Homo sapiens: one gene and its partners. The protein of the gene in region 1 interacts with the protein of each later gene in a pairwise test. Each region holds a gene or a part of one and is shown in the gene's direction. Other genes may lie near its edges.

Region 1 (7,326 bases):
CTGAACTCTAACCTCCATCTCTGCAGCCTGTGGAGGCCTCCTCTCTGGCCCAAGGGGCTTCTTCAGCAGCCCTAACTACCCAGACCCTTACCCCCCCAACACCCACTGCGTGTGGCATATCCAGGTGGCCACAGACCATGCAATACAGCTCAAGATCGAAGCCCTCAGCATAGAGAGTGTGGCCTCTTGCCTTTTTGATCGCTTGGAACTCTCCCCTGAGCCTGAAGGCCCCCTCCTCAGGTAGGTCCCTCTGTCCCCAGGACATCCCACCGTGTCCTGAACCACTATCTAAAGAGCAGAATCAGGGAGTGGCAGGGAGAAGGGCTAACCGAGGAAGAAATTGAGAGACTAGACCTCTGGGCCCAGCTCTGCCACCACCTTGCTGTGTGCCGTGAGGAAGATCACTTCCCCTCTCTCACCTGTTTCCTAGTCTGTAACATGGATCTCCTGCCTATCTCCCCATGAGTAGATGCTACAAGGATAAATGTGCAGGTGCTAGGAAGGTCAGAGCTCCCTGGGACATCAGAGGAGCCTTTTTGACCACATGGTCACCAGTTTGGGGGTTGAGAAAATAGGACTGCAAGGCCCAGGCAAGCTCCTCTCTGGCTGACCCTGCTCTTGGAGCCTCCCTCACCCCCAACCTGGCTTCTTGCAGGGTTTGTGGAAGGGTGCCTCCCCCCACGCTCAACACCAATGCCAGCCACCTCCTGGTGGTCTTCGTCTCTGACAGCAGTGTGGAAGGATTTGGTTTCCATGCCTGGTACCAGGCTATGGCCCCTGGGCGCGGTGAGTGTGTTCCCACCTGCCTGTTGAGTGTCCACTTTCTTCCCCTCCACCCACTCCCAGTCCTGTCAAAGGGGTGGAGACTCCGGGCCTCCCTGACTCCTGGTGCCCACATCCAGGGAGCTGTGCCCATGATGAGTTCCGCTGTGACCAGCTCATCTGCCTGCTACCTGACTCAGTGTGTGATGGTTTTGCCAACTGTGCTGACGGCAGTGATGAGACCAATTGCAGTGCCAAGTTCTCGGGTACGGGCCAGGCATGGGGGTCCTCTCTTCAGGCGTCTGATCTGGGTTCAAGCTGGGCTCCCCAGCTCTGGTCCAGCCTCAAACCGGGCCCTCCGTCAGCATTTCCTGCTCAGTCATTCTTTGGCCCAGAACTTGTTTCCCATGGGCATGGCCAAAACTCTCGCTCTGTAATCACCGCCAGCCCTATTGGATGGAGGCACAGATCCTAGCAAACTCATGAGCCCTTCCACCTCTCTACAGGGTGTGGGGGGAATCTGACTGGCCTCCAGGGCACTTTCTCTACTCCCAGCTACCTGCAGCAGTACCCTCACCAACTGGTAAGCACAGTGCTCCATGCAGAACGGGAGGGGCACACACGGAAGCACCTGATCCCCAAGTTAGTGTAATGGGAATGGCATGGTAGACACTACCTTCTACTTGGGAAGGTCAGAGATCAAGCAGACGGGGGATGGGGGAATATTATTAAGTGCCTGCTGTGTACCCAGATGTTCCCACACTGGGTCAACTCACCTCTGAAACCAGGTAAATTAAAGGTCCTTAAGAACCACCAATGATGAAAGCACCACCCCATCCCCCCAGCCAGCAGTGGGGGAAGAAGACCCTTCTGGGTGCCCGGGATGAGACAGGAGAAGGGGCCATGAATTGCTCCACCTATGCCCTCCCCCAGCTCTGCACCTGGCATATCTCGGTGCCTGCCGGACACAGCATAGAACTACAGTTCCACAACTTCAGCCTGGAGGCTCAGGACGAGTGCAAGTTTGACTACGTGGAGGTGTATGAGACCAGCAGCTCAGGGGCCTTCAGCCTCCTGGGCAGGTACAGGAGCCAGGGAAGAGCCATGGATAACTCCATCCTCACTGTCTGCCACCCCCGGCTTCCATGTCGGCCCAGCACATTCCATTCTCCAGCTTCATTTTCTTCTGCTACTCCAGGCCGGGGGTCTCTTCACCATCACCCTAAAGACAGCTCTCACCTCAAAACCTTCACCCCACACTCTCCCTGTCCCCAGGAGGTCCTTCCCCAAACCTCTCCCTGCCCCAGTTCCTCCCCACCGGCAGGGGCCACTTCCACCTCCCCTACAAACCCTCATTGATTTTTCTTTTTCTTCTTTTTTTGAGGCAGAGTGTCACTTTGTTGCCCAGGCGGGAGTGCAGTAGCACCATCATGGCTCACTGCTGCCTCAACCTCCCAGCTTCAAGTGCTCCTTCCACCTCAGCCTCCTAAGTAGCTGGGATCACAGGCACATGCCACCACGCCCAGATAATTTACTTTTTTAATTTTTTTGTAAAGACAAGGTCTCACTATATCGCCCAGGCTGGTTTCAAACTCCTGGGCTCAAGTGATCCTCCCTACTCAGCCTCCCAAAATGCTGGGATTACAGGTGTGAGCCACAATGCCAGGCTGCTTCGCTGATTTTTCCCCATCTAGAAGTGGCTCGAGTTCAGACAGTTTGTTTAATGCTTTCCCTGTTGAATATATGTGTCTTTCTCGCCAGACCCTAACCCTGTGTCTTCCATCACCTTTGGCATCATCCAGGGCTCCCAGCTCAGAGCCAGGCCTGTGGGAGGCTGCAGTGCCCCCTCAGTCAGCCAGGGCTGGTGCCCAGAACAGCTGTCTGCTTTGGGCAGGTTCTGTGGAGCAGAGCCACCCCCCCACCTCGTCTCCTCGCACCATGAGCTGGCTGTGCTGTTTAGGACAGATCATGGCATCAGCAGTGGAGGCTTCTCAGCCACCTACCTGGCCTTCAATGCCACGGAGAGTAGGTGCCCCTGGGCAAGTGGGTGGGGGCAGTAGAGGCACCTCCAGGGGGACAGACAAGGGCTCTGGACCCTGGTCAGGACACTCTGGGGGTACTGGGGGTGTAGGTATGTCCCCGGGCACTGCCATGCCCCTTGTGCCTGCAGACCCCTGTGGGCCCAGTGAGCTCTCCTGCCAGGCAGGAGGGTGTAAGGGTGTGCAGTGGATGTGTGACATGTGGAGAGACTGCACCGATGGCAGCGATGACAACTGCAGCGGCCCCTTGTTCCCACCCCCAGGTGAGAAGCCTGCCCCTGGGGACCCTGAGCAGGCTGGGTGCCCACCTCACAGAACCCTACTGCCGTACTGCACAGTGTCCCATCCCAACCTCCCTGAGGGGGCGGGGCCAGCTGGCCTCACCATCCTGACTCTGGGACCACTTCACAGAGTCCTGGAAGACAGTCGGCTGGTGGTGGCAATAGTACTGAGTGTCACCCCAAGGGAAATGGGAATCTGGGAATCATTGGTGGGGCTTCAAGAACCAGTCCCTTCTGTCACCCAGAGCCCCTTTCCACAGCCCACACCAAAGATGAAGGCATCCTCTTACACAGAGCAGGGGGTTTCTTCCAGATGCCCAAGCAGTCCCTGCAAACGCGGGTGCCCCATGTTCCCTGAGATTAAAGACGTGCCTGCATGATGCCCAGGGCTGGCAAGCGATGCTGGAGCAGGCTCTCAGGGATGGCAGGGATCCTCAGAGTGTGTACAGCCTGTCTCTTTGTTATCCTCTTGCTTCCTCACAACCACCCCCATTGGACCCATGTACACACAGGACCGAGCGATTCGGTGACTTGCCACAGGCCACAGAGCCAGTGAGCAGTCCCCACAGTGGCCCTCCCCTCCACCCCTGCAGAGCTGGCCTGTGAGCCTGTCCAGGTGGAGATGTGCCTCGGTCTGAGCTACAACACCACAGCCTTCCCTAACATCTGGGTGGGCATGATCACCCAGGAGGAGGTGGTAGAGGTCCTCAGCGGTTACAAGGTCTTCTGGGTGGAGGGAAGGAGGGCGGGCCTGGGAGGGGAGGAGCCTGGGAGCAGGTGCCTGAAGGCCACTCTCCCTCCGCAGAGCCTGACAAGCCTGCCCTGCTACCAGCATTTCCGGAGGCTCCTGTGTGGGCTGCTTGTGCCCCGTTGCACCCCACTAGGCAGTGTTCTGCCCCCTTGCCGCTCTGTCTGCCAGGAAGCGGAGCACCAGTGCCAGTCTGGCCTGGCACTACTGGGCACCCCCTGGCCCTTCAACTGCAACAGGCTGCCAGAGGCAGCTGACCTGGAAGCTTGTGCCCAGCCCTGACCCTGAAGCCGGCCCCTGCCCTCTTCCTGCCCGTCCTCTTTTGCCGGTCAGGGCTGGCACGCAGGGGAACAAAGGAAGGAGCATCAGCAGGGTCTCTACCCATCCTTCTCTGGGGCTCCCAGGGAGGGGGAAGAGAAGTCCTCAGCTGGGGCTCATGGGACCCTACCACCCTCCCTGCTCCTTCCTGTCCCTTTACCGGTCCCAGGCTGCTGACTGGCCCCACACTGTGCCACCGGACAATCGAGACCACTTCCCATCCAGGCCTCTTCCCCTTTCCATCTGCTTTTTCAGCTTCTCCATCGCCTGCCTTCTGACCTTTTCCTTGATTCAACAAAAATGTACTGAGCATCTATTCATGTGGCAGGCCCCTGTCCTAGGCCCTAGGGATCCAACTGGCTGTCTGCCTCTAGAACTCTCCACCCTCATCTCTCTGCGTATTTCTCCCTGAAATGGGGTCTGGTCCTTGGTCTCTGCCACTGCCCTGCCTCTCCTCTGGCCCTGGGAACAGGAGGTGCCCTGTGTGTCCGTCTCTCGAAGTTCTGCCTCTCTGTGCCCAGCTCAAGTCTCTCTCCCCCTCCTTTCTCCCCCTAAACTTTGGCCGGCCGCCGGGCGACACCACGAGTTATTTCCCAGCTATTTCCCGGTCCGGGAGCTCTTGGCCCCTGAACAACTGGTTTCCTCTTGGAGTCTGGGAGGAGGAAAGCGGAGCCGGCAGGGAGCGAACCAGGACTGGGGTGACGGCAGGGCAGGGGGCGCCTGGCCGGGGAGAAGCGCGGGGGCTGGAGCACCACCAACTGGAGGGTCCGGAGTAGCGAGCGCCCCGAAGGAGGCCATCGGGGAGCCGGGAGGGGGGGTGAGTCTGGCGGAGGAGGGGAAAGGGGCTGGGGAGGGGACTGTGGGAAAGGCTGGCGCGGGCCGGCGGTGGGAGGGAGGGCTGGCCGCTCCCACCCTCTCGCGCCTGCCTGTGCTCTCCGGATGCTCGGCCCTGCGAGCGCTCAGCCTCAGGGGCACGGCAGTGGGGTGGGGACCGACTGGGCCGCGCCGGGGTGGGGAGAGAGGCAGGTCCCAGGATTCTGGGTCCCGACTCCAGTCCTGCCTGGTCCACAGACTGCGAGAGGACCCCGGCGTCCGGGCTCCCGGTGCCAGCGCTATGAGGCCACTCCTCGTCCTGCTGCTCCTGGGCCTGGCGGCCGGCTCGCCCCCACTGGACGACAACAAGATCCCCAGCCTCTGCCCGGGGCACCCCGGCCTTCCAGGCACGCCGGGCCACCATGGCAGCCAGGGCTTGCCGGGCCGCGATGGCCGCGACGGCCGCGACGGCGCGCCCGGGGCTCCGGGAGAGAAAGGCGAGGGCGGGAGGCCGGGTAAGAAGGCACCGCCGCGGCTATCGGTGGCGATGTCCGAGCAGGCGCGGCCGCAGCTCCAGCTCCCGGTGTCCGGGACTCGGGTCTCCCGCCAGGGGGCGCCACTCCCCGCGCTTTGCAGCCCTGAGCGGGGGAGGGGCCCAGGCGGCGGGAGCCCCCTTGGCCAGCCCCCCAGATCTGCCCTGCGGGAAGGGGTGGAGGAGGTACCCGTGCGGGAGGAGGCGCTGGCCGAAGCTCAGGCAGGGGCGGGGAGGGGTACGGTGACCTTAGAGTCGCCGCCCCGCTGCGGGCTGAGCCGCCGCTACTCTCACCCTGCCGCCCCGCTTACCCCGCAGGACTGCCGGGACCTCGAGGGGACCCCGGGCCGCGAGGAGAGGCGGGACCCGCGGGGCCCACCGGGCCTGCCGGGGAGTGCTCGGTGCCTCCGCGATCCGCCTTCAGCGCCAAGCGCTCCGAGAGCCGGGTGCCTCCGCCGTCTGACGCACCCTTGCCCTTCGACCGCGTGCTGGTGAACGAGCAGGGACATTACGACGCCGTCACCGGCAAGTTCACCTGCCAGGTGCCTGGGGTCTACTACTTCGCCGTCCATGCCACCGTCTACCGGGCCAGCCTGCAGTTTGATCTGGTGAAGAATGGCGAATCCATTGCCTCTTTCTTCCAGTTTTTCGGGGGGTGGCCCAAGCCAGCCTCGCTCTCGGGGGGGGCCATGGTGAGGCTGGAGCCTGAGGACCAAGTGTGGGTGCAGGTGGGTGTGGGTGACTACATTGGCATCTATGCCAGCATCAAGACAGACAGCACCTTCTCCGGATTTCTGGTGTACTCCGACTGGCACAGCTCCCCAGTCTTTGCTTAGTGCCCACTGCAAAGTGAGCTCATGCTCTCACTCCTAGAAGGAGGGTGTGAGGCTGACAACCAGGTCATCCAGGAGGGCTGGCCCCCCTGGAATATTGTGAATGACTAGGGAGGTGGGGTAGAGCACTCTCCGTCCTGCTGCTGGCAAGGAATGGGAACAGTGGCTGTCTGCGATCAGGTCTGGCAGCATGGGGCAGTGGCTGGATTTCTGCCCAAGACCAGAGGAGTGTGCTGTGCTGGCAAGTGTAAGTCCCCCAGTTGCTCTGGTCCAGGAGCCCACGGTGGGGTGCTCTCTTCCTGGTCCTCTGCTTCTCTGGATCCTCCCCACCCCCTCCTGCTCCTGGGGCCGGCCCTTTTCTCAGAGATCACTCAATAAACCTAAGAACCCTCCTACCGGCTCCAGCCTTTCTTCTTTAGTGGTGGGGGCTCCCTGTTTCTGGGATCATGGTGTGGAGGGGGTGTTCAGGCAGAAGGGAGGGTTCTTGGATGAAATAGAGATATGCGGCAGATATACAAGAAGCCGGCCCAGGGGAATGAGAGGCTGCTCCACAGAGCCGCCACCTAGGTTGTGAATGGGAGTGTCTGACAGCGGGATGCCCTCCTGGTGTGGGGCTCCATCCATCCTTGAGAAAGGGAGCACCTTTTTCTAATTCAAAGATGCCAACTGAACCACGTAGGGGCTGCCTGCGCCACACATACCTCTGCCCTCATCCAACAAAAAAGAGCCGAGGACTTTCGTCCATGGCTGCTCCGGCTGCTTGCCTGCCCCCGATGAGCAGAAAGCTATTGCTCTGTAACCCGAGTGAGTGGCGTCCTCGGGCGTCTAAAGATAAGCAGTTTCTGAGATGACCACAAGGGGGTGCCCTGGCCCCAGAATGCCGCAGGGATCCTGGGTAGCTTGAGCTCCTGACTATGGGGGGGTGAGGGAGAGGAGGGGTATTGAGGTCGGCCAAAGGAATTCCAGATGCGGATGGAAGAAAAGGGGGGGTCCTTTACTC
Region 2 (7,000 bases), on another chromosome or scaffold:
GGGCAAGCGCTGGCTTTAAGCTTTCCTGGCAGCATCCAGGTTAAGTGCACCTGCACCCAAATGCTGGTTCCATAAATGAGCCAGCTTTTAAGTGTGTGGCTAGGGAGTACGCATCCCACCAGGCATCAGAGAAAGCTGTTGCTGCATAGACAGGCCCCCAGGCTTGGCCTGGGAGCTTTCCAGGACCAGCAGGTAGCAGCTCACCCATGCACCTGTGTGCCTGCACTCTCACACTCACACATACCCCAGGGCACCAGGCGCACACTCCATGTCCCCTGCCCTGTGCCCCTAGTAGGTGATGGTGATGATGTGAGGCTCAGAATTAGATGGAAGGATGAATTCAGGGCTCTCAAGAAGGGAGAGATGCAACCTTCAGGAACATGAGAGTGTGGCCAGAACAGGATGAGTGTGTACGAGTGTGTGTATGTGTGTGCACGTCTCTGTGTACTGGTGCAGGCTAATGTAGGAGGGGGTTCTCTCTGGCTGTTCAAGGCTTATCTTGGAAGCCCACAGACTCTGCATCCACCCAGGTGCCCTCAAATGTTAGCACACTCATGGTATGATTGGACCCCCTCAGTTGTGATGGCCAAGTGCAGTGCACAGCCTGGATAACTGTACACAGCAGCCCTGTCAAGAGCCCACAGTTGGCCATCTCTGGACAAGAAGCCAGCTCTATCTCATATATACCTCAATTCCATGATTGAAGGCAGAATCCAAAACCACTGTGAATCCACTCAAACCAGGAGAAGAAGGTCACAAAGGTCATAGGATCAGAGCAGCTTCTAGCTGACACCCACTCCGTGGTGGTAAGAAGGGATTAGAAGATTGCAAACTGGGTTAAAAAATCCTCTCACCTACAGCTCAAGGCTGTAATCCTAAGGACTCTGCTTCTCTAAGCCTTGTTCTATTTTCAACTCTTTTCTCCAGGGTACAGTCTCCCCTGGGGCTGCAAGGATTTAGTGGAGACTCTTAACACCAGTTCTCTGGCATCTGTGAGTTTGAGTGTGGGCCATCATCTTCTTCCTTCTGCTCTCTCCCTCTCCACATTTCCCGGTACCATCTGATCCATCAGGCCCTTCTTTGCTCAGGCCTGAAGGACTCAGGCCTGTGAGAGAGGACGGCCCCGTTGTCGGCCAAGACACCTTTGGGCGAGGAGCAGCGAACAGGGCCTGTCCATCTCAGACGTCAGCCCCCTGAAGGCCTGAGCAATGGGCAACGTGATGGAGGGAAAGTCAGTGGAGGAGCTGAGCAGCACCGAGTGCCACCAGTGGTACAAGAAGTTCATGACTGAGTGCCCCTCTGGCCAACTCACCCTCTATGAGTTCCGCCAGTTCTTCGGCCTCAAGAACCTGAGCCCGTCGGCCAGCCAGTACGTGGAACAGATGTTTGAGACTTTTGACTTCAACAAGGTGAGCAGGGGCCCAGTGGCAGGGAGGGGAAGTGCTGGAGGGACCCCTCTGGAAGCCTGACCAGCTGGGGGTGAGGAAGAGCAGAGAGGAGCATAGAAGTGTCCGCTGGGGAGCAACTTCATTTATACAGTCATTTGTTTATTTGATAGGTGGGTTTTTGACACTAGGGTTTCAACGGATCTAATGTTTGTGCTTTAATGAGCACCAACTGTGAATCAGGCACTGGGGGGTTAGAAATGTATCAGACATTGTCCCTGCCCTCACTTTCTAGGGCAAGACAGAGAGGCCCACACATTAGTGTAATCCGAGGCTGAATCCAATGGCTTCCTCCACCTCTGCCACAGGCATATCTTGGTTTACTCCAAAACGAGTGTAAACACTTCCAAGATGGTCATTGAACACCTGCGATGTGCTGGTCCTATACGTGGTGCTTTTGCAAACACCCTTTGAAGCTCCCAAGGATGTGGGCAGAGGGGCAGAGAGCAGGGAGCAAGATGATGATTCTCTAGCCTCACTGTCTGGCATGGGCAGGCCACTTATAATATTCTGCGGACATGAGGACTGGAGACAGACAGGGTTGCCTGGTCCCTGGAGAACCCAGAATGCTCCCAACTTCAAAATACCCAGTGACCTCATATCACCTTTTCTCAAGTGAGCCTGAAGGTCCACACCGTGGTCAAATTGTGTCTCCTCAGTAGCCACCTGGACGCATTAGGTAAGGACTTCCTAATTGATAAGCTAGAGGGGTCACTGAAAGGTGAGTTTGGGACTGTGGGTTTGGGTCCCTAGCTTTCATCCGCTGGGTGACCTTGAGCCCATCATTTCCCCTCTCAGTCCCAGTATATTCATGATGCCGTGGATGTTGGGAGCATTAGTTAAGATGTTTGTTGGTTTTCATAGTAAATCTTCCATTCATTTGGAACTATTTGGTCAAGACATAGTTGTGGAAGAGCCCAAATCTGCAAACGTGGCTCCCCACCCTGTGGCCCCTCACTTGAAAAGTGAGGATGCAATGAGGCGCTGCCGCGTGTCCTCTGCAGACCCGGGAGAGGTTCCTTCCCTCGCTGCCCAGAAGGTCCAGGCACCATCATGGGTGGGGCTTCTTGGGAAAGCTGGGGCTCAGTGGCTATTTAAAACTCACTAATATTTAAGGATAAGGGACCAAAGTAGATTACGGGCTTTGAGTGTCAACCTCAGGTGTAGTATGAGGGAGCCCAAGGGCTTTCCCGAAGCGGGAGCAGGTGAGCAGAGTCCAGAGCCTGTGTACAGAGACTGGGAGGGATGGCATCATCACATTCAACACTCAAAATGCTCCCGAAGAAGGAATAACTCCTGAACAGGAGGGGAAGGACAAATGGATGGTTGAGCCTCACACCTTACCCCCAAACAGCGACATATCTCATCTTCTCACCTGCTAAGAAAACCCTTTGGGTTAAGACATGTCTGCAGAAGGACCCTTACAGTCACACATATGACGCCGGTGGGGGTGGGGGAGGGCAACCCTGGGGCACATCGACCCTGTATTTGCCTAATCATGTCTTTTTTTTTTTTTTTTTTTTTTTTTGAGATGGAGTCTCGCTCTGTCGCCCAGACTGGAGTGCAGTGGCGTGATCTCGGCTCACTGCAACCTCCACCTCCTGGGCTCAAGCGATTCTTCTGCCTCACTCAGCCTCTCAAGTAGCTGGGATTACAGGCACCCACAACCATGCCTGGCTAATTTTTGTATTTTTAGTAGAGATGGGGTTTCACTATGTTGGCCAGGCCGGTCTCAAACTCTTGACCTCAGGTGATCCGCCCACCTCGGCCTCCCATAGTGCTGGGATTACAGGCGTGAGCCACCACGCTGAGCCAACCATGTCTTAATGTGTGTCCCATGCGAGCACCACCTGTACTGTACCAAACCTGACCCTTGTCTTTCCACTGAAAGTAAATCAACCCCTTGTTTCTAGGCAGTCTGGCCTCCTCCCTTATTCCACACACACCCCCGCCTTAGGGGTTTTGTGCTGCCTGGGACCCTCTCTGCCCCCAGAATTCTGCTCGGCTTACACCTTCCTCTGCTGCAAGTCTCTGCTTAGAAGTCTCCTCACTAACCCCTGCCGTGATCTTCTGGTTTAAACTCTGTTTAAAACTGGGACTGGTTCCCACCTCTGCATTTCCTAGTCCCACCTTTCCCCGCAAGCACCTGTCGTCTTCCAATACCAGATTTAAATAACATTTCACCATTACGTTTATCGCCTGTCTCCCCCTGCTGGAATGTGAGCTCCATGTGGGCAGGGATTTTTGTCTTGTTCACTGTTGAATCCCTGGTTCCTAGAACAGTGCCTGGATTGTGGCAGGTGCTTAATAATATTCATTGTATGAGTGAATGAATATATGAGAAATCAGGAATTTAATGGCTAGTTATTTTATAATATACATCAATTTAACTCTGCAAATATTAAAATGAAGAGTGACTTTGTAACACCCAACCTGCCTCATCTACACCCATGGCACACAATCACACTTTGCATAATACTGTCTTGACCCATTGTCATCAGCATGGAGCAGTTTAGCAGATTGGCTAGGAGATGGAACACAGGATTGGGAAGTTTTTGTTGTTGTTGTTGTTTTGTTTTTTGTTGTTGTTGTTGTTTTTTGAGATGGAGTTTTGCTCTTGTCACCCAGGCTGGAGTGCAATGGCACGATCTCGGCTCACTGCAACCTCCACCTCCTGGGTTCAAGTGATTCTTCTGCCTCAGCCTCCTGAGTAGCTGGGATTACAGGTGCCCACCACCACGCCTGGCTAATTTTTGTATTTTTAGTAGAGACAGGTTTTCACCACATTGGCCAGGCTGGTCTCGAACTCCTGACCTCAGGTGATCCACCTGCCTCGGCCTCCCAAAGTGCTGGGATTACAGGTGTGAGCCACTGCACCTGTCCAGAAGTTTTGATACAGAGAGGAGTTAAACAGGGACAGGCAAATGACAGCACACAGGCCTGTTTTTGTAAATGAAGTTTTATTAGAACTCACCACATCTATTTATTTACGTAGAGAATTGTCTATGGCTGCTTTCACGTAAAATGACAGAGGGTGTTTGGCTGCAAAGCTGCATATTTACTCTTTGGCTCTTTACAGAAAAAGTTTGCCATTTTCTAATAAAAACTAAAAAGTTTTTAGTGCAAGTGCCAGCCCTTGCACTAAAAAATGGTTGTATCTTTGGGTATTGCACCAGATGTGCAGGGCTGGGGAGTACAGAGTGTGACTGGGGAGTGAAACCTGGGGGACAGGCCATTTGCTTTGCTTACTTCAAATGTTTGTCTGGGCTTGGGTTTGTCTGACAATCACACAGGTGCACACAAATCAATGCAAATCTCCATCTGCATTTGAGTACTGATATAGGATGATTTAGGAGAGGCTTTGTCATTCACTAGCTGTTTGGCCTAATCTCTCTCAACTTTGGCTTTGTCATTCAAACTAGAGACAAAAATATTCACCTCTTGGGGGTGGCTTGAGATTAAATGAGTAAAATGAATAAAGCACTCAGCCTAGGAAGTCCATGGAGAGCACTAAGAAAAGTTAGTATTGCTATATATTTTCATTGAATCTAATGCATACCACAATCTTGAAAAGTGCACACTGTCATTCCATTTTATACCTGGGAATACGGAGACTCAAGGTCATGTGACTTATCCAAGGTGATTTAGATCTTTCTGGCACAAAAATCCACACCTTTTCCATTGCCCCTTTTTAGACATTAAAAAAAAAACCTGCAAAAGCAATCCAGCTCATTGTAGAAATTTCCAGCAATACAGAAAGATAAAAAATGAAGAGCAAAAGTATCCTCACCTGGTGTCCCCTCCCCCAGAGGAAACCTCTTTAGCAGTTTTCTTGCTTATTCAAGCTGTGCTGTCTAGGGGCCTCTCTGGGCTCTGTGCTGATGACAGTCCTGGGAGGTGGGTTGGGACTGAATGAGCCCACTGTGGGGTTCAGAGTGTTTAAGGCCTTCCGGGGGCCTCAGCCCCTCAGGCAGCAGGGTGAGAAACTCCCAAAAGCTCACCCAAACCACGCTCCCATCCCTGGGGGTGCAGTTCTTCCTCCTCCCACCTACGCACATGTCTCCCATTTCCCCTAACTGGAAAGGCTCATGCTTGACAATCACAGGGAAGCAGGCAGCGCTCGCTAAAACCCAGATGCCTGTGAACAGACAGCGCCAGCCATTCACACCCCAGTGGATGCTGGCTTATTAGATTTGATTGGCAGCCTCTGGAGTAGGCAGGGTGGGCTATACAGGGCGTCTAGGAAGACAGATAGGTCACGGCGGAGACAGGGCTGGCCCCCTCGCTGCATCTCCGAGGGTCCGGGTCTCCCCTCAGCGTCTCTTGGGGCTTGCCGAGATGGGCGGAGCCTTGGGTTATGATGGGCGGGGCCTGAGGCTGGAGTGAGCGGGGCCCGGATGGGCTCACGGCGGCCGCGCCCCTCGCCCAGGACGGCTACATTGATTTCATGGAGTACGTGGCAGCGCTCAGCTTGGTCCTCAAGGGGAAGGTGGAACAGAAGCTCCGCTGGTACTTCAAGCTCTATGATGTAGATGGCAACGGCTGCATTGACCGCGATGAGCTGCTCACCATCATCCAGGTGCAGAGGGCCCGGCCAGGGCTGGGGGCAGCGGTCTGGGGTGGGACCCGGAACTGAGAGCCCAGGGTTAGAACAACAATCTCAGGATTGAGACAGGATGTGGGACTGAGGATCCTGGTGGCAGCTGTAGGCCTCACCAGCTGCGTGACCCAGGCCACGTTCCTTCCCTTCCTTGGCCTCAGTTTCCTCATCAATACCAAAAGACGATAGAAGTTTGACTCTTGAGTCCCAGCTCTGCCTAGGCCCCCGGGTACCCTGCACTCTACTCCTCACTGCTCTTGGGAGCCGGACAAGCTCTGACCGTCCCCAATCCTACCCCTGAGATAGGATAAGGATGGGCCCCTCTCACTTCTGCCCCTTCTTCCCTCCCAGGCCATTCGCGCCATTAACCCCTGCAGCGATACCACCATGACTGCAGAGGAGTTCACCGATACAGTGTTCTCCAAGATTGACGTCAACGGGGATGGTGAGGGGGCCGAGGAGGGGCTCCCCAGCGGAGGGGTCACCATGGATGTGGGGTCACCAGGGGTGGAAGGTCACTAAAGGAGAGGGTGAGGAAGGGAGGAGAGGCCCAAAGGCCCCCGTGCTGGTCACTTCCTCCACCTGCCTCTGCCCCAGCCACAAAGTTGGCTTTTAGGGGCCCCTGGACCAGAATCTGGGCTCTGGGTTCCTCTGCTTGCTGCACCCGCAGCAGGGGCTCTGACTTCTCCTCACGTGGGCTCTGTCCCTGCCCCTGGCAAGAACCCGGTTCTGTGCTCTGGACTGCAGAAATGAACACCCTCCTCCCCCTGATTCCCTTTCTCTCTACCCCAGGGGAACTCTCCCTGGAAGAGTTTATAGAGGGCGTCCAGAAGGACCAGATGCTCCTGGACACACTGACACGAAGCCTGGACCTTACCCGCATCGTGCGCAGGCTCCAGAATGGCGAGCAAGACGAGGAGGGGGCTGACGAGGCCGCTGAGGCAGCCGGCTGAGT
Region 3 (7,887 bases), on another chromosome or scaffold:
TTTACTGGGCTCAAGCCCGTCAGTCAAATATTACTCTCAAAACGGTAATTTAGGAGAGTTGATGTGGGGACTATTAACAGAGAGCTGGGCATAGTTAAGGGAATGGTGATGTACCCAGACAGTAGCGAGAGGGAAGCCCTTATCATGCCTGGCGGGGCAAAGGGAGGGAGCCATGATTACAGGAGCCCAGAGAGCTATGGCAGGAGCGGTGATTGAAGGTGGAAGGAAATAACCGCTGCCCCAACCCTGAGCTGGCAGGGAGGAGTGAGGACAACAAATGTCCCAGCTCTTCTCCCTCTCCACCCTCCAGTCTTCCTCCAGCTTCTCAGCAGATGAACCCAGCCTGAAACAAGAGGGCAGCAGAGTCTGGGTGATGCAGTCTGTAGGGTCAGTCTTTGGGGCTCAGAGCTGGAGGAGAAAGGGGGAGAATGAGTCGGGGCTGGGCAAACAGAACAACTAGCGCACGACAATGTGGAATGTGTGGTGCCAGGAGCTGGGGGCAGGCGAGACACAAATAACAGAATGGTCTCCACCCTCTGTGAGCTTGCTGGGTTCCTTAGAGCAGGCTGGCAAGAAGAGTTGCCTATATAATACTTCTGGAAAGAAATGAATGCTATGTCCGTGTTATTGTAGAAGAGTGAATGTCATAATAGACCCTAAGGTGACCCCAGTGATTTCTACCTCCTGTTGTTCCTACCTTTGTAAAATTCTCTCCCTTTGAGTGTGGGTGAGGCCCTTGACTTGATTCTAACCCATAGAATATGGCAAAGGTGATGGGACGTCTCTCTGTGGATTATGTTAGGTTATATAGACTTTAGCAGATTGCAGAGAGACTCTTCTCGCTGACTTGATGAAATAAGCAGCGTGGTGAGGAAGCTGGTGTAACAAGGAACAGAGGGCAGCCTCTATGACCTGAGTGTGTCCCCCAGGCAATGTCAAGTGAAAAGCCAGCTCCCTTGTCACATAGCCACAACAAAATGAGTTCTGCCAACAACCTGAATAAGTTGGAAGTGGATTCTTCCCCAGTTGAGCCTCCAGATGAAAATACAGCCCAGGTGACACCCTGAGAGCAGCCTTGTGAGACGCTAGGCAGAGGACCAGCTAAGCTGTGCCTGGACTCCTGGCCCATAGAAACTGTGAGATAATAAATGTGTGGCCAGGCACGGTGGCTCATGCCTGTAATCGCAGCACTTTGGGAGGCTGAGGCAGGTGGATCACCTGAGGTCGGGAGTTTGAGACCACCCTGACCAACATGGAGAAACCCTGTCTCTACTAAAAATACAAAATTAGTGGGGCATGGCGGCACATGCCTGTAATCCCAGCTACTCAGGAGGCTGAGGCAGGAGAATTGCTTGAACCTGGGAGGCAGGAGGTTGTGCTGAGCCGAGATCGCATCATTGTACTCTAGCCTGGGCAACAAGAGTGAAACTCCATCTCAAAATAATAATAATAATAATAATAATAATAATAATAATAATAATAATAAATGTGTGTAGTTTTAAAACTGCTGACTTTGTGGTTATTTGTTATGCAACATAGAAAACTAATATAACACACACATTAGCCAGAGTTCTTCAGAGAGACAGAGCTAATAGGATTATATATAGAGGTATGAGAGAAGATTTATTAGGGGGATTGGCTCACATGTTTATGGAGGCTGAGAAGTCCCACAATATGCCATCTGCAAGATGGAGAACCAGGGAAGCCAGTAGCATGGCTCAGTTCAAGCCCAAAGGGTTCAGAGCCAAGGAAACTGATGGTGTAACTCTGGGTCTGAAGCTGAAGGACTGAGAACGTGAGAGTGGGGAGGGGTTGCTACTGGTGCAAGTCCTGGAGTCCAAGGGCAGGAGAAGAAGAGTGTCCCAGCTCCAGGACAGAGAGAGAGAGAGAGAGGGAGAGAATTCACCTTTCCCCTGCCTTTTTCTTCTGTCCAGGCCTAAGCCAATTGGATGGTGCCCACCCACATAGGCTGAAGGCAGATTCTCCTTACTTAGTCCATGAATTCAAATGCCAGTCTCTTTGGCAAGCACCCTCACAGAAACACCCAGAAATAAAGCTTTACCAGCTTGTTGGGTAATCCCTTCATCCAGTCCTAAAATTAACTGTCACAACACATAAGCAAAATGTCAGTATGCTGTGGGAGGAAGATATTTGAGAGAGATTTGGGAAGGCTTCACAGAGGAGGTGGCATTTGTACTCACACATGAAGAGTGAGAGGGATTTAAATAGAAAGGGAAAGATGAGCGGCTGCCTTGTCCCCAACCTCTTCATTTCCCAATCTTGGGCCTGAGAGTCCTCGGCAAGGACACATTTTCCAGCTGGGCCCCAAGCAAGTTCACAGAAGGAGTCCTTCTCTCCCCGTCCCTTAACTTGTTGTGGAGAAGCTGACTGAAGCAGGGAGAACCCAGCTCCCCACCCCCATATACCTTCCGTCAATCAATTCATGTGGAGTAGAGGTAAAACAGTCCCAGTTTGTCTCTTTTTCAAAAATAACTATCCTCTTTGATTTTGTGAGCAACATATGTTCATTATGAACAATTTTTTTTTTTTTTTTTGAGATGGAGTCTCTCTCTGTCGCCCAGGCTGGAGTGCAATGGCGTAGTCTCGGCTCACTGCAAACTCCGCCTCCCAGGTTGAAGTGATTCTCCTGCCTCGGCCTCCCAAGTAGCTGGAATTACAGGCGCCCACCACCATGCCTGGCTAATTTTTGTATTTTTAGTACAGATGGGGTTTTACCATGTTGGCCAGGCTGGTCTCGAACTCCTGACCTTGTGATCCACCCGCCTCAGCCTCCCAAAGTGCCGGGATTACAGGCGTGAGCCTGGATCTGGTAAGGCTTTAACAAAGGCCTCCACCTTCCCTAGGGCCTGACTACAGCTGGTAGGTGGCCTGTGTGAGGCAGGTTGGATGTCTGTTCCTACACATAGCCCTTCTGGCCGTCCAGGGCCCAGAGTGAATGGGGCTAAAGGGACAAGAGCACGATTGGCTCTAACCCAGGGATGCTGCTGTGTCCAAGATGCAGTATAAGTGCACCTAGATTGTAGTGAACAGCACATCAGACATGCTGCTGTAATAGATACAAAATCATAACATCATAGCCAAGATTTATGGGGCACTTACTCTGGGGCAGACCTTGTTCTAAATGCTTTTCTTATATTAACTCACATACTCTTTTTTTTTTTTTTTTTTGAGATAGGGTCTCGCTTTGTCATTCAGGCTGGAGTGCAGTGGTGCGATCTTGGCTCACTGCAACCTCCGCCTCCTGGGTTCAAGCGATTCTCCTGCCTCAGCCTCCCGAGTAGCTGGGATTACAGGAGTGTGCACCATCACGCCTGGCTAATTTATGTATTTTTAATAGAGATGAGGTTTCACCATGTTGGCCAGGCTGGTCTCGTACTCCTGGCCTCAAGTGATCCACCCGCCTCGGCCTCCCAAAATGTTGGGATTACAGGTGTGAGCCACCGTGCCCAGCCCCACTTACTCCCCTTAACAGCCCTATCAGATGGGCGCCATTATTCCTATTTTAAGAATGAGGAAACTGGGGCCCAGAGAGGTTAAGTTACTTGCTCAAGGTCACCCAGCCAGTAATGTAAGCAAGAAACAAGCTTGTATTGTTTTCAGCCACTGAGATTTTAGAGTGGTTTGTTACTGTAGCATAACCTAGCCCATTCTGAAATATGTATGCACATGTATTTGATATATGTTATATGTTGTATAAATTGTATATTTATATAAATCTATTTACATGTAATTATATATTATTTATATAAATCATATAAATTGTGTATCAGTGCACAACTTGACCAAGTGTCCAAGGCCCTGGTGGGGAAAGCAGAAATATGGGCAGTGGTTCCCTCTAGATGAGTTAGGAGACCTGGGTGTGCCCCATATGTAAAGGAGGAAGGCAAACAAGAGAAAAAGACAGGGCAGGGCAAGCGCTGGCTTTAAGCTTTCCTGGCAGCATCCAGGTTAAGTGCACCTGCACCCAAATGCTGGTTCCATAAATGAGCCAGCTTTTAAGTGTGTGGCTAGGGAGTACGCATCCCACCAGGCATCAGAGAAAGCTGTTGCTGCATAGACAGGCCCCCAGGCTTGGCCTGGGAGCTTTCCAGGACCAGCAGGTAGCAGCTCACCCATGCACCTGTGTGCCTGCACTCTCACACTCACACATACCCCAGGGCACCAGGCGCACACTCCATGTCCCCTGCCCTGTGCCCCTAGTAGGTGATGGTGATGATGTGAGGCTCAGAATTAGATGGAAGGATGAATTCAGGGCTCTCAAGAAGGGAGAGATGCAACCTTCAGGAACATGAGAGTGTGGCCAGAACAGGATGAGTGTGTACGAGTGTGTGTATGTGTGTGCACGTCTCTGTGTACTGGTGCAGGCTAATGTAGGAGGGGGTTCTCTCTGGCTGTTCAAGGCTTATCTTGGAAGCCCACAGACTCTGCATCCACCCAGGTGCCCTCAAATGTTAGCACACTCATGGTATGATTGGACCCCCTCAGTTGTGATGGCCAAGTGCAGTGCACAGCCTGGATAACTGTACACAGCAGCCCTGTCAAGAGCCCACAGTTGGCCATCTCTGGACAAGAAGCCAGCTCTATCTCATATATACCTCAATTCCATGATTGAAGGCAGAATCCAAAACCACTGTGAATCCACTCAAACCAGGAGAAGAAGGTCACAAAGGTCATAGGATCAGAGCAGCTTCTAGCTGACACCCACTCCGTGGTGGTAAGAAGGGATTAGAAGATTGCAAACTGGGTTAAAAAATCCTCTCACCTACAGCTCAAGGCTGTAATCCTAAGGACTCTGCTTCTCTAAGCCTTGTTCTATTTTCAACTCTTTTCTCCAGGGTACAGTCTCCCCTGGGGCTGCAAGGATTTAGTGGAGACTCTTAACACCAGTTCTCTGGCATCTGTGAGTTTGAGTGTGGGCCATCATCTTCTTCCTTCTGCTCTCTCCCTCTCCACATTTCCCGGTACCATCTGATCCATCAGGCCCTTCTTTGCTCAGGCCTGAAGGACTCAGGCCTGTGAGAGAGGACGGCCCCGTTGTCGGCCAAGACACCTTTGGGCGAGGAGCAGCGAACAGGGCCTGTCCATCTCAGACGTCAGCCCCCTGAAGGCCTGAGCAATGGGCAACGTGATGGAGGGAAAGTCAGTGGAGGAGCTGAGCAGCACCGAGTGCCACCAGTGGTACAAGAAGTTCATGACTGAGTGCCCCTCTGGCCAACTCACCCTCTATGAGTTCCGCCAGTTCTTCGGCCTCAAGAACCTGAGCCCGTCGGCCAGCCAGTACGTGGAACAGATGTTTGAGACTTTTGACTTCAACAAGGTGAGCAGGGGCCCAGTGGCAGGGAGGGGAAGTGCTGGAGGGACCCCTCTGGAAGCCTGACCAGCTGGGGGTGAGGAAGAGCAGAGAGGAGCATAGAAGTGTCCGCTGGGGAGCAACTTCATTTATACAGTCATTTGTTTATTTGATAGGTGGGTTTTTGACACTAGGGTTTCAACGGATCTAATGTTTGTGCTTTAATGAGCACCAACTGTGAATCAGGCACTGGGGGGTTAGAAATGTATCAGACATTGTCCCTGCCCTCACTTTCTAGGGCAAGACAGAGAGGCCCACACATTAGTGTAATCCGAGGCTGAATCCAATGGCTTCCTCCACCTCTGCCACAGGCATATCTTGGTTTACTCCAAAACGAGTGTAAACACTTCCAAGATGGTCATTGAACACCTGCGATGTGCTGGTCCTATACGTGGTGCTTTTGCAAACACCCTTTGAAGCTCCCAAGGATGTGGGCAGAGGGGCAGAGAGCAGGGAGCAAGATGATGATTCTCTAGCCTCACTGTCTGGCATGGGCAGGCCACTTATAATATTCTGCGGACATGAGGACTGGAGACAGACAGGGTTGCCTGGTCCCTGGAGAACCCAGAATGCTCCCAACTTCAAAATACCCAGTGACCTCATATCACCTTTTCTCAAGTGAGCCTGAAGGTCCACACCGTGGTCAAATTGTGTCTCCTCAGTAGCCACCTGGACGCATTAGGTAAGGACTTCCTAATTGATAAGCTAGAGGGGTCACTGAAAGGTGAGTTTGGGACTGTGGGTTTGGGTCCCTAGCTTTCATCCGCTGGGTGACCTTGAGCCCATCATTTCCCCTCTCAGTCCCAGTATATTCATGATGCCGTGGATGTTGGGAGCATTAGTTAAGATGTTTGTTGGTTTTCATAGTAAATCTTCCATTCATTTGGAACTATTTGGTCAAGACATAGTTGTGGAAGAGCCCAAATCTGCAAACGTGGCTCCCCACCCTGTGGCCCCTCACTTGAAAAGTGAGGATGCAATGAGGCGCTGCCGCGTGTCCTCTGCAGACCCGGGAGAGGTTCCTTCCCTCGCTGCCCAGAAGGTCCAGGCACCATCATGGGTGGGGCTTCTTGGGAAAGCTGGGGCTCAGTGGCTATTTAAAACTCACTAATATTTAAGGATAAGGGACCAAAGTAGATTACGGGCTTTGAGTGTCAACCTCAGGTGTAGTATGAGGGAGCCCAAGGGCTTTCCCGAAGCGGGAGCAGGTGAGCAGAGTCCAGAGCCTGTGTACAGAGACTGGGAGGGATGGCATCATCACATTCAACACTCAAAATGCTCCCGAAGAAGGAATAACTCCTGAACAGGAGGGGAAGGACAAATGGATGGTTGAGCCTCACACCTTACCCCCAAACAGCGACATATCTCATCTTCTCACCTGCTAAGAAAACCCTTTGGGTTAAGACATGTCTGCAGAAGGACCCTTACAGTCACACATATGACGCCGGTGGGGGTGGGGGAGGGCAACCCTGGGGCACATCGACCCTGTATTTGCCTAATCATGTCTTTTTTTTTTTTTTTTTTTTTTTTTGAGATGGAGTCTCGCTCTGTCGCCCAGACTGGAGTGCAGTGGCGTGATCTCGGCTCACTGCAACCTCCACCTCCTGGGCTCAAGCGATTCTTCTGCCTCACTCAGCCTCTCAAGTAGCTGGGATTACAGGCACCCACAACCATGCCTGGCTAATTTTTGTATTTTTAGTAGAGATGGGGTTTCACTATGTTGGCCAGGCCGGTCTCAAACTCTTGACCTCAGGTGATCCGCCCACCTCGGCCTCCCATAGTGCTGGGATTACAGGCGTGAGCCACCACGCTGAGCCAACCATGTCTTAATGTGTGTCCCATGCGAGCACCACCTGTACTGTACCAAACCTGACCCTTGTCTTTCCACTGAAAGTAAATCAACCCCTTGTTTCTAGGCAGTCTGGCCTCCTCCCTTATTCCACACACACCCCCGCCTTAGGGGTTTTGTGCTGCCTGGGACCCTCTCTGCCCCCAGAATTCTGCTCGGCTTACACCTTCCTCTGCTGCAAGTCTCTGCTTAGAAGTCTCCTCACTAACCCCTGCCGTGATCTTCTGGTTTAAACTCTGTTTAAAACTGGGACTGGTTCCCACCTCTGCATTTCCTAGTCCCACCTTTCCCCGCAAGCACCTGTCGTCTTCCAATACCAGATTTAAATAACATTTCACCATTACGTTTATCGCCTGTCTCCCCCTGCTGGAATGTGAGCTCCATGTGGGCAGGGATTTTTGTCTTGTTCACTGTTGAATCCCTGGTTCCTAGAACAGTGCCTGGATTGTGGCAGGTGCTTAATAATATTCATTGTATGAGTGAATGAATATATGAGAAATCAGGAATTTAATGGCTAGTTATTTTATAATATACATCAATTTAACTCTGCAAATATTAAAATGAAGAGTGACTTTGTAACACCCAACCTGCCTCATCTACACCCATGGCACACAATCACACTTTGCATAATACTGTCTTGACCCATTGTCATCAGCATGGAGCAGTT

What was found. The genes of interacting proteins can lie anywhere in the genome.
Region 2: the proteins of C1QTNF5 (region 1) and GUCA1ANB-GUCA1A interact in binary tests that used the Homo sapiens proteins (3 or more experiments, as listed by UniProt).
Region 3: the proteins of C1QTNF5 (region 1) and GUCA1A interact in binary tests that used the Homo sapiens proteins (3 or more experiments, as listed by UniProt).

What each region holds. Positions count from the first base shown.
Region 1 is NC_000011.10:119,338,334-119,345,659, reverse strand, and holds C1QTNF5 (complement C1q tumor necrosis factor-related protein 5 precursor), read left to right. Parts: upstream 1-4,776; 5' UTR 4,777-4,965; intron 4,966-5,219; 5' UTR 5,220-5,262; coding exon 5,263-5,476; intron 5,477-5,811; coding exon 5,812-6,329; 3' UTR 6,330-6,718; downstream 6,719-7,326. Other genes in the region: MFRP (membrane frizzled-related protein), read left to right, coding at 27-240, 656-786, 903-1,028, 1,269-1,345, 1,696-1,844, 2,657-2,787, 2,933-3,064, 3,676-3,803 and 1 more.
Region 2 is NC_000006.12:42,172,406-42,179,405, forward strand, and holds part of GUCA1ANB-GUCA1A (guanylyl cyclase-activating protein 1), read left to right. Parts: intron 1-927; 5' UTR 928-1,208; coding exon 1,209-1,409; intron 1,410-5,874; coding exon 5,875-6,024; intron 6,025-6,396; coding exon 6,397-6,490; intron 6,491-6,837; coding exon 6,838-6,998; 3' UTR 6,999-7,000. Other genes in the region: GUCA1A (guanylyl cyclase-activating protein 1), read left to right, coding at 1,209-1,409, 5,875-6,024, 6,397-6,490, 6,838-6,998. UniProt on the Homo sapiens protein: Stimulates retinal guanylyl cyclase when free calcium ions concentration is low and inhibits guanylyl cyclase when free calcium ions concentration is elevated.
Region 3 is NC_000006.12:42,168,477-42,176,363, forward strand, and holds the start of GUCA1A (guanylyl cyclase-activating protein 1), read left to right. Parts: upstream 1-4,887; 5' UTR 4,888-5,137; coding exon 5,138-5,338; intron 5,339-7,887. Other genes in the region: GUCA1ANB-GUCA1A (guanylyl cyclase-activating protein 1), read left to right, coding at 5,138-5,338. UniProt on the Homo sapiens protein: Stimulates retinal guanylyl cyclase when free calcium ions concentration is low and inhibits guanylyl cyclase when free calcium ions concentration is elevated.